Linked DNA regions of Homo sapiens. The protein of the gene in region 1 purifies or fractionates together with the protein of each later gene. This does not show direct contact. Each region holds a gene or a part of one and is shown on either strand. Other genes may lie near its edges.

What was found.
Region 2: the proteins of MACC1 (region 1) and MARK2 purify together in Homo sapiens (affinity purification with mass spectrometry; one large-scale study listed by BioGRID and IntAct). This does not show direct contact.

What each region holds. Positions count from the first base shown.
Region 1 is NC_000007.14:20,134,094-20,137,642, reverse strand, and holds the end of MACC1 (metastasis-associated in colon cancer protein 1), read left to right. Parts: 3' UTR 1-2,988; downstream 2,989-3,549. UniProt on the Homo sapiens protein: Acts as a transcription activator for MET and as a key regulator of HGF-MET signaling. Promotes cell motility, proliferation and hepatocyte growth factor (HGF)-dependent scattering in vitro and tumor growth and metastasis in vivo.
Region 2 is NC_000011.10:63,901,607-63,905,425, forward strand, and holds part of MARK2 (serine/threonine-protein kinase MARK2), read left to right. Parts: intron 1-591; coding exon 592-724; intron 725-994; coding exon 995-1,176; intron 1,177-1,454; coding exon 1,455-1,552; intron 1,553-2,379; coding exon 2,380-2,541; intron 2,542-3,179; coding exon 3,180-3,437; intron 3,438-3,819. UniProt on the Homo sapiens protein: Serine/threonine-protein kinase. Involved in cell polarity and microtubule dynamics regulation. Phosphorylates CRTC2/TORC2, DCX, HDAC7, KIF13B, MAP2, MAP4 and RAB11FIP2. Phosphorylates the microtubule-associated protein MAPT/TAU.

The DNA.
Region 1 (3,549 bases):
TCAAATCCCATTAATCTAAAACTTCTTTAAGCATTTTGAAAGCAGAAAATGTTTACATGGTTCTTTCAGTTCCTCAGGCTTTTTGTCTAATGATGCGTGACTTAGGATAAGATTTGAATTAAGTGCCCAGCTTGAAACATAATAATTTTTCTGTATAAGCCACAGATCCTCTACCTCCTTTGTGTTAAAGCCTTTATATGAAACAATTAAGTAGAAGCATTCAATAGTGTGTCATTAACTGTTCATACTAATAAATGGATACAGCACATTTTCATGGCCTGTAATGTAGAACATACTATATAAAGTTCTCAGTTTGGGGATGACTAGGTTTCTGGAAGGAATAGAATGCTAAATCAATGGATGGCATTGGGCTGAGAAACACTGCTGCTACTAATCAGCCTTGAATGTGTAATGTGAACATGCAAAAGAGAACATGCATACACTCAAATTTGTACAATGCTATAACTGGAAGTTGAAGGACTTGAATTTTTATATTGTGCTATTGTTATGTTTTCTGTAATTGTTTATATCTAAGGAATTTTTGAGGTAATATAAAAGAAAAAGAGAATAATGAACAATGATGTCACTGGAGGGTTTTTACATTAAATTAGATCATTTTTCTTCTTATTCACAATAATAATCTTAATCTTTAAGAATTAATTATAATTTAATATTATAATTCATAATCTTTAAGAATTAATAATTATAATTTAATATTATAATTAATAATCTTTAAGAATTAATAATATAATTTAATATTATAATTAATAATCTTTAAGAATTAATAATTACAATTAATAATTAATAATAATCTTAATCTTTAAGAATTAATAATAATCCTTAATCGCAATAATAATCGCAAGGAGGAGAAGTAAGTCCCTCCTCCTTCTGTATGAACTTTTCTCCCACATGCTGCTGTATGGTTTAGTGAGAGTGAAGTTCTAAAGAACATCAATATGATTGGTGGGATAATCCAAAGACATTTTTTCAGAATCAAATGGCATGTCGAAGGTTTGTTTCTTGCATATGTATTTACTGGTCCACAGCACAAAATAAAGTGACCACATATACATAGGAAAGTTGAATTTGTACACATACAGCATCTGAAATGTATCTGATGTTCAGCATCAAGATTTCACTGAACATTGTAGAAATGTGTATCTTTTGCATGTATATTTTACATTGATTTTCTATTTATGTACATCTAGAAAGTTTTAACCCTAATAAATAGTTTTGTAATTTTGAATAATAGTGTCAGTTTATATGTGAGGGAGTAGAGACAGAGAGGTTAGCACTGGATAATAATTAGTAAGGCCAAAGGAGAAAATTTCATAGAAAATATTGTTGTTGTCATAATGAGTACAGCATGAAAGGCTTCCTCTACAAGACACTAGTCAAAGAGTTGAGAGCTGCGGTTTCTAATCTTTGTCCATTACTCCCTTACTCCCTATGAGACTGTGGACCTGTCACTTGGCCTCTCTGGTCTTCAGTTTTCTCACCAGTAAAACAAGGAACTTGAACCAAATGACCTCTAGTGTTCCCCTTGGGTTTAAATGTCTATAAATGTTCAATGACTAGAATGTATTGCGTTTTTCTTTATTCTTTTTGCTTTGAGAAAAGAGAATGTGATTTAAGAGTAATAATTTGAATACCAATTATCCACATTAAAATTGTGTCCTCTATGTGTAAGGCATAGCACATTTAGCACACATACATAAGCACACTAAGCACCTTACAAATATCCTCATTTATTCTTTACATAATCTTTTGAAATTGATTATGTAATACACACTGTTTTTGAACAATTGGTGACTTCCAGCTGTTTAAAACAAACTACAGTATGGTGCTTGAGTACTGACTTAGGAGGTCAGCATTGGTTTCACTAGGAGCTTCTCAAAGCACGCTGCCAAACATGCTCCAGTCTCATTGTCAAGGCCTTAGACCAGGCAATCATTACGGCAGTGGTTCTTCAACTTCAGCAGCAGCAAAACGATCTGGCGGGGGCTTGGTGAAACAGACTGCTGGGCTCGACCACCAGAATTTCTCATTCAGAGGGTCTGGCCTGATCACTTGCATTTCTAATCACTTCCCAGGTGATGCAGATGTTTCTGGTCCAGGGACCCCAGTTTGAGAACCACTGTATTAAAATTTCCTTCATCTCTATAGAAATGGAAAGATTTTTTATAAGTCCTCTAATTTGCTTTAAGATAAATGAGATTTCACTTAATTCTGTTGGAGAAATTGTTTTAAAAATTGTGCTAAAGAACCGAAAATCACTTTATGTTAAGGCTCTATTTATAGCAAGTGAACTTTTCATGAGTTAATAAAGGCCTACAAAAATAATTTTGACTGTGAAACTAATTAAAATCTCTGTGTTTCATTTAAAGCATAAACATATTTGAATAAAAATAGGTTAACAATAATTTGGGACATGTATTCAGTATAATTTTAAGATAATTTTACAAAATATATGTAACATTGCATTTGTTTCTGTAAAATATCTTCGGAAAAAGCCTTGTTTTCCCTAGTGTGTTATTTGTTGAATTTCTTGTTAAATGTATTTTTTCCCATTGAAAAAAATGTTTTTAATCAATGTGATCAATACAGCTATCTATATGCCCTGCTTTCACTGTAGAATTAGAAAGTGTTAATAAGGTGATCGGATGTTCTTTCTAAGGATCATATTCCACATTTAAAGAGATGGTGACTGAGAAGAGGTGGCAAGCTGAACCATCTCACTTTGAGATTGACGTATCACGTTTTATCCTCTGCCATCATTTCCTTGTTAATTGTTTTTCTTTGGGTGATTGGAAGAATCTATGGCTTCCTTTTCTCTGTTCTTAAAGATATCAAGACTCTGCCCTTTTGTGACTGGAAGTAGATTTTAAATGTCCCTAATGTTTATATGCTCACTTAAACTCAATACATGGAATTTACTGGGGCATTTAACTTGTTCATGAAAATAGAGTGAGTCATTGAAAAATCAAATCTTTAGTTATGATTAAGTTATTGTTTTTACCTAAACTGGTTCTACCAAACTCACTCTTTAAAGCAGAATCTGGAATTGGCAAGTCTGATGTAATGCTGATCTTACACATATTAGATTAAATGACCTAATAGAACCAGCTACTGCGCCCTTTCTTATCAGAGTAGAAAAACCCATTCTCTGGGTTTACTCCCAGGAAATACATACTCAATGCTCACTCAGACGTTTTATATCATGACGAAAAATCAAGAAAGGGGTGAAGTGGAGCTAGGGAAGGGTTCAATTACGGTGTAAAGAAAGAAGGCTGCCTATTCATGACAATGGAAACTTTGTCTTCCTCTCTTTGTGTTGGAATTTTTATTTTTATTTTTATTTTTATTTTATTTTATTTTATTTTTTAGACAAGGTCTCCTTGTCTCACCCAAGCTGGAGTGCAGTGGTGCAATGATCGCCTGACCTACCTCCACCTTCCAAGAGTAACAGTGCTCCTGCTCCAATGTGACCTTACAAATCTTACATAGATTTCTCTGTGGTCAACTCTAATCAGCAACACTCAGAGACAC
Region 2 (3,819 bases), on another chromosome or scaffold:
TAGCTGGGATTACAGGCATGTGCCACCATACCCGGCTATTGAGTCTGTTGCTTCTGTCTAGTGCTTTATGTTTGGGTGTGTGTATCTGTGTGTGTGTGTGTGTGTGTGTGTGTGTGTATGTGTCCGTCTTCCCGTCTGTGGATCTGGAGACTTTGTGATTGTTCTTCTGCCCATTTGGGTTTTGTTCATCATCTGAGTATCCCCACATGAACTCCCAGCCTCCCTGCCCTGCTCTCCCTCTGGTGGTGGGATCCTTAAGAGGCACCTGGTGACACTTGGTATAGGCCCATATTGCTCTGTGTTGAGGGGAGTGGACTTGAGTCTGGACATGTGTTCTTGCGGATGTTTGTGTCTCTGGGTGTGTGGGCTTATGTATTCCTTTCTGAGACTGTGTTTGTCAGTGTCTGTGTCAGAGCATGTGTGTCTCCAGGGTCTCCTCCAGGGGGGATGTATTGGTCTTACAAGTGGATGTCCGGTATGATCCTGGGGTGTTTGAGTGTTGGGAGAGGGCGGTATGTGTAAATGTGTCCATCCATAGGGATCTCCACATGACTTCTGCCCTCCCTTGAAGCTGTTTTCTGTTTCTTTCAGCTGGAAGGCGACACCATCACCCTGAAACCCCGGCCTTCAGCTGATCTGACCAATAGCAGCGCCCCATCCCCATCCCACAAGGTACAGCGCAGCGTGTCGGCCAATCCCAAGCAGCGGCGCTTCAGCGACCAGGGTAAATGCTTTTGGGAGTTGTAGGTGGGGACTCACCCCTCTCCAGAGAGGTTACAGGTTCTGTGGGGACTTGGGTAACACAACTAAGTTTCAGTCCTGGTTCAGCCACTTATTAGTAGTGTGGCTATGGGCAAGCCACTTCCCTTCCCTCGCCTCTGTGGAATGGGGGCTTGCTGGGTTGTTGGCCAGCCCTGTAGGAAATGAGCATGCGTGGGGCTGGCACTCAGTGGACCCCTTGGCCTTACCCATTCCCATCCTCCCTCTGGCCCAGCAGCTGGTCCTGCCATTCCCACCTCTAATTCTTACTCTAAGAAGACTCAGAGTAACAACGCAGAAAATAAGCGGCCTGAGGAGGACCGGGAGTCAGGGCGGAAAGCCAGCAGCACAGCCAAGGTGCCTGCCAGCCCCCTGCCCGGTCTGGAGAGGAAGAAGACCACCCCAACCCCCTCCACGGTGAGCCGCACCCCCCGCTCTCTCCTTCCTTCCTGCGGTGGGGCCTGCCCTCTCCAGGCAGCTCTTCTCTTAATTCAGACTCTGTTCCCTTTGGCTACTACTTCTGCTTATAGCAGGAAGCCTCGCTCCCAGCAGTAAATGCAGAATCCTTTCCTTAACCTACCACTGTCTGCTTCAGGTGGAAGGGACAGGAAGCCTGTTCCATGAACCTGGGGGGAGAACCTGGCTGTAGACCACTTTGGCTTTCTGATAGAACGCTTGCCCTTTATTCCCCACAGAACAGCGTCCTCTCCACCAGCACAAATCGAAGCAGGAATTCCCCACTTTTGGAGCGGGCCAGCCTCGGCCAGGCCTCCATCCAGAATGGCAAAGACAGGTGAGAGACCCGGGCCCTGCCTGCCTCACTCCCTAGGAGCCATGTCTCACAGGGTGATGTCTGTCAGCAGCACCGTCTCCTGTCCCTGCCAGCGCATTGCTCCCTGCTCCCTGGAGTTCCATCCTGGCTGTGTCCAGTCCAGCTTTCCCCTCCCCTATTCCACGCCATTGCCTCCTCCCCATCTTCCTCTGACTGCTACTTGCAGTTTGCCAAGTGTGGGGCTGACCGTGGCCATCTCAGCTACATGCTCGCTTCTTGACCACGGCCAGGGCATGGCAGCTGCCCTCCTCTAGACATGAGCAGCTAAGGCCTTGTGTTGGGGGTCCCAGCTCAGGGCAGAACCAAGAGATGCCCACCTTGAGGGGTGTACACATAGAGGGCGACTCCAGCCATCCCCATGAGACCAGAGCTCCCCAGCCTTCACCGGCCGCATTTCTTGGTGTTGCATTCCTGGCTCTATCTCTTCTGAGTTTATGAAAGTTTCCCCTCAGCAACACCCCACTCTTTCTGTAGAAGAAACTCTCCTGTTCTTAAAATTCTTAGGAGGCCAGTGCAGCCTGGAGGCAGCGGCCCCTTGTCTGCTCTCCTTCATTTCTGATTCCTCTTCCCAGGCACTGACCCACCTCGCTGCTTCCCGACCTCACTCACCTCCACTTCTCAGCCCCGCATTCCTCAGTTCTGACTTGCATCCCGCTGCTGCCCAGGCCTGACTTCTACCCTGCCAGAGCTCCCCAGCTCTGGCCCTTCCCCTGCCCTTGCTTCCTAATCCAGGCCTCCCGCCCTCACTCACCCCTAACACGGGCCTCTCCGCTGCTTTTGTTTCCTAGCCTAACCATGCCAGGGTCCCGGGCCTCCACGGCTTCTGCTTCTGCCGCAGTCTCTGCGGCCCGGCCCCGCCAGCACCAGAAATCCATGTCGGCCTCCGTGCACCCCAACAAGGCCTCTGGGCTGCCCCCCACGGAGAGTAACTGTGAGGTGCCGCGGCCCAGGCAAGTGTGCTGGGGCAGCTGGTGCACCTGCTGCCCTCAGCCCACCCTACCCCCTTGCCCCAACAATTTCTTCTTCCCACTTGGGGGTCCTGCTGTGTTCTTGTCATCTTAGCCACAAGAAATGGGTCTGTCCCCTGCGGCCAGGAAGTGGAGGGAACAAAAAAGAGCATTAATGCCCCTCTTTTCCAGTTCTCCCTCTCAGAACAGGTATGCAGGAAGCTGTCCTAAGGCTCCAAAGGGAAACCTTTTTGTTCTGAACCTTCCAGGGTTTCCTTAGGGACCCCGGGGATAGTCGGCATCACAGGGACTCAATCCTCAAGGGTTGGTCCCCATTGCCGCCTTGAGGGTCCAGTCTGCCCGGCTCCCAGGGAGCCCGCTGTCTCCAGCCTAAACCACACTCCACACAGGGGTCCTTCCTTGCCTCCCTCCCTCCCTTCCCAAACCATCTCCTTCCACTTCCACGAGACTTCCTTCTCACCACTGTCCTCAGTAGTCACACCCTTCCTTCTGTGTCCTCGTGATGGCTGCCTCTGCCCTAGCATCCCCCTCCCTGTCCCCACCACAGGGTGTCCAGGTGCCCAGTGATGGCTGTCCTGTACCCTAATTCGTCCCCCTCAACCCCACTTCTCTTCCCACAGCACAGCCCCCCAGCGTGTCCCTGTTGCCTCCCCATCCGCCCACAACATCAGCAGCAGTGGTGGAGCCCCAGACCGAACTAACTTCCCCCGGGGTGTGTCCAGCCGAAGCACCTTCCATGCTGGGCAGCTCCGACAGGTGCGGGACCAGCAGAATTTGCCCTACGGTGTGACCCCAGCCTCTCCCTCTGGCCACAGCCAGGGCCGGCGGGGGGCCTCTGGGAGCATCTTCAGCAAGTTCACCTCCAAGTTTGTACGCAGGTAAGCAAGGAGCTTTGGGTGGCAGAGAGGCTCAGGCCAGGCCTTCCTGCTTTACTCGGGGTGGGTTGGGGGTTGGGGGTTGGGGTTTGGGACACTCTGTACCGGTATTGGGTCCTGGGGTTAGAAGAGGCTTCAGGAAGCACAAGAAATTAGGTCTTTGTCAACACCTTATGTGCCCAGGCCCACCCCTCTTAGGCCTCTCCCCAACTCCTCACAGGCACCCCTCATTCTCTGGCCCCAAGCAGATGGCCGATGCCGCCTCCTCTCTAGGAGAGTGTGAACTCAGATGCTAAAATAAAAGCCCCCCCTTCTCTCCTGGGTTCCCATGGAAACTTATATTTGGTGACGCAGCTGCAAAGTCATGAGGCATGAGCCAGGCTGG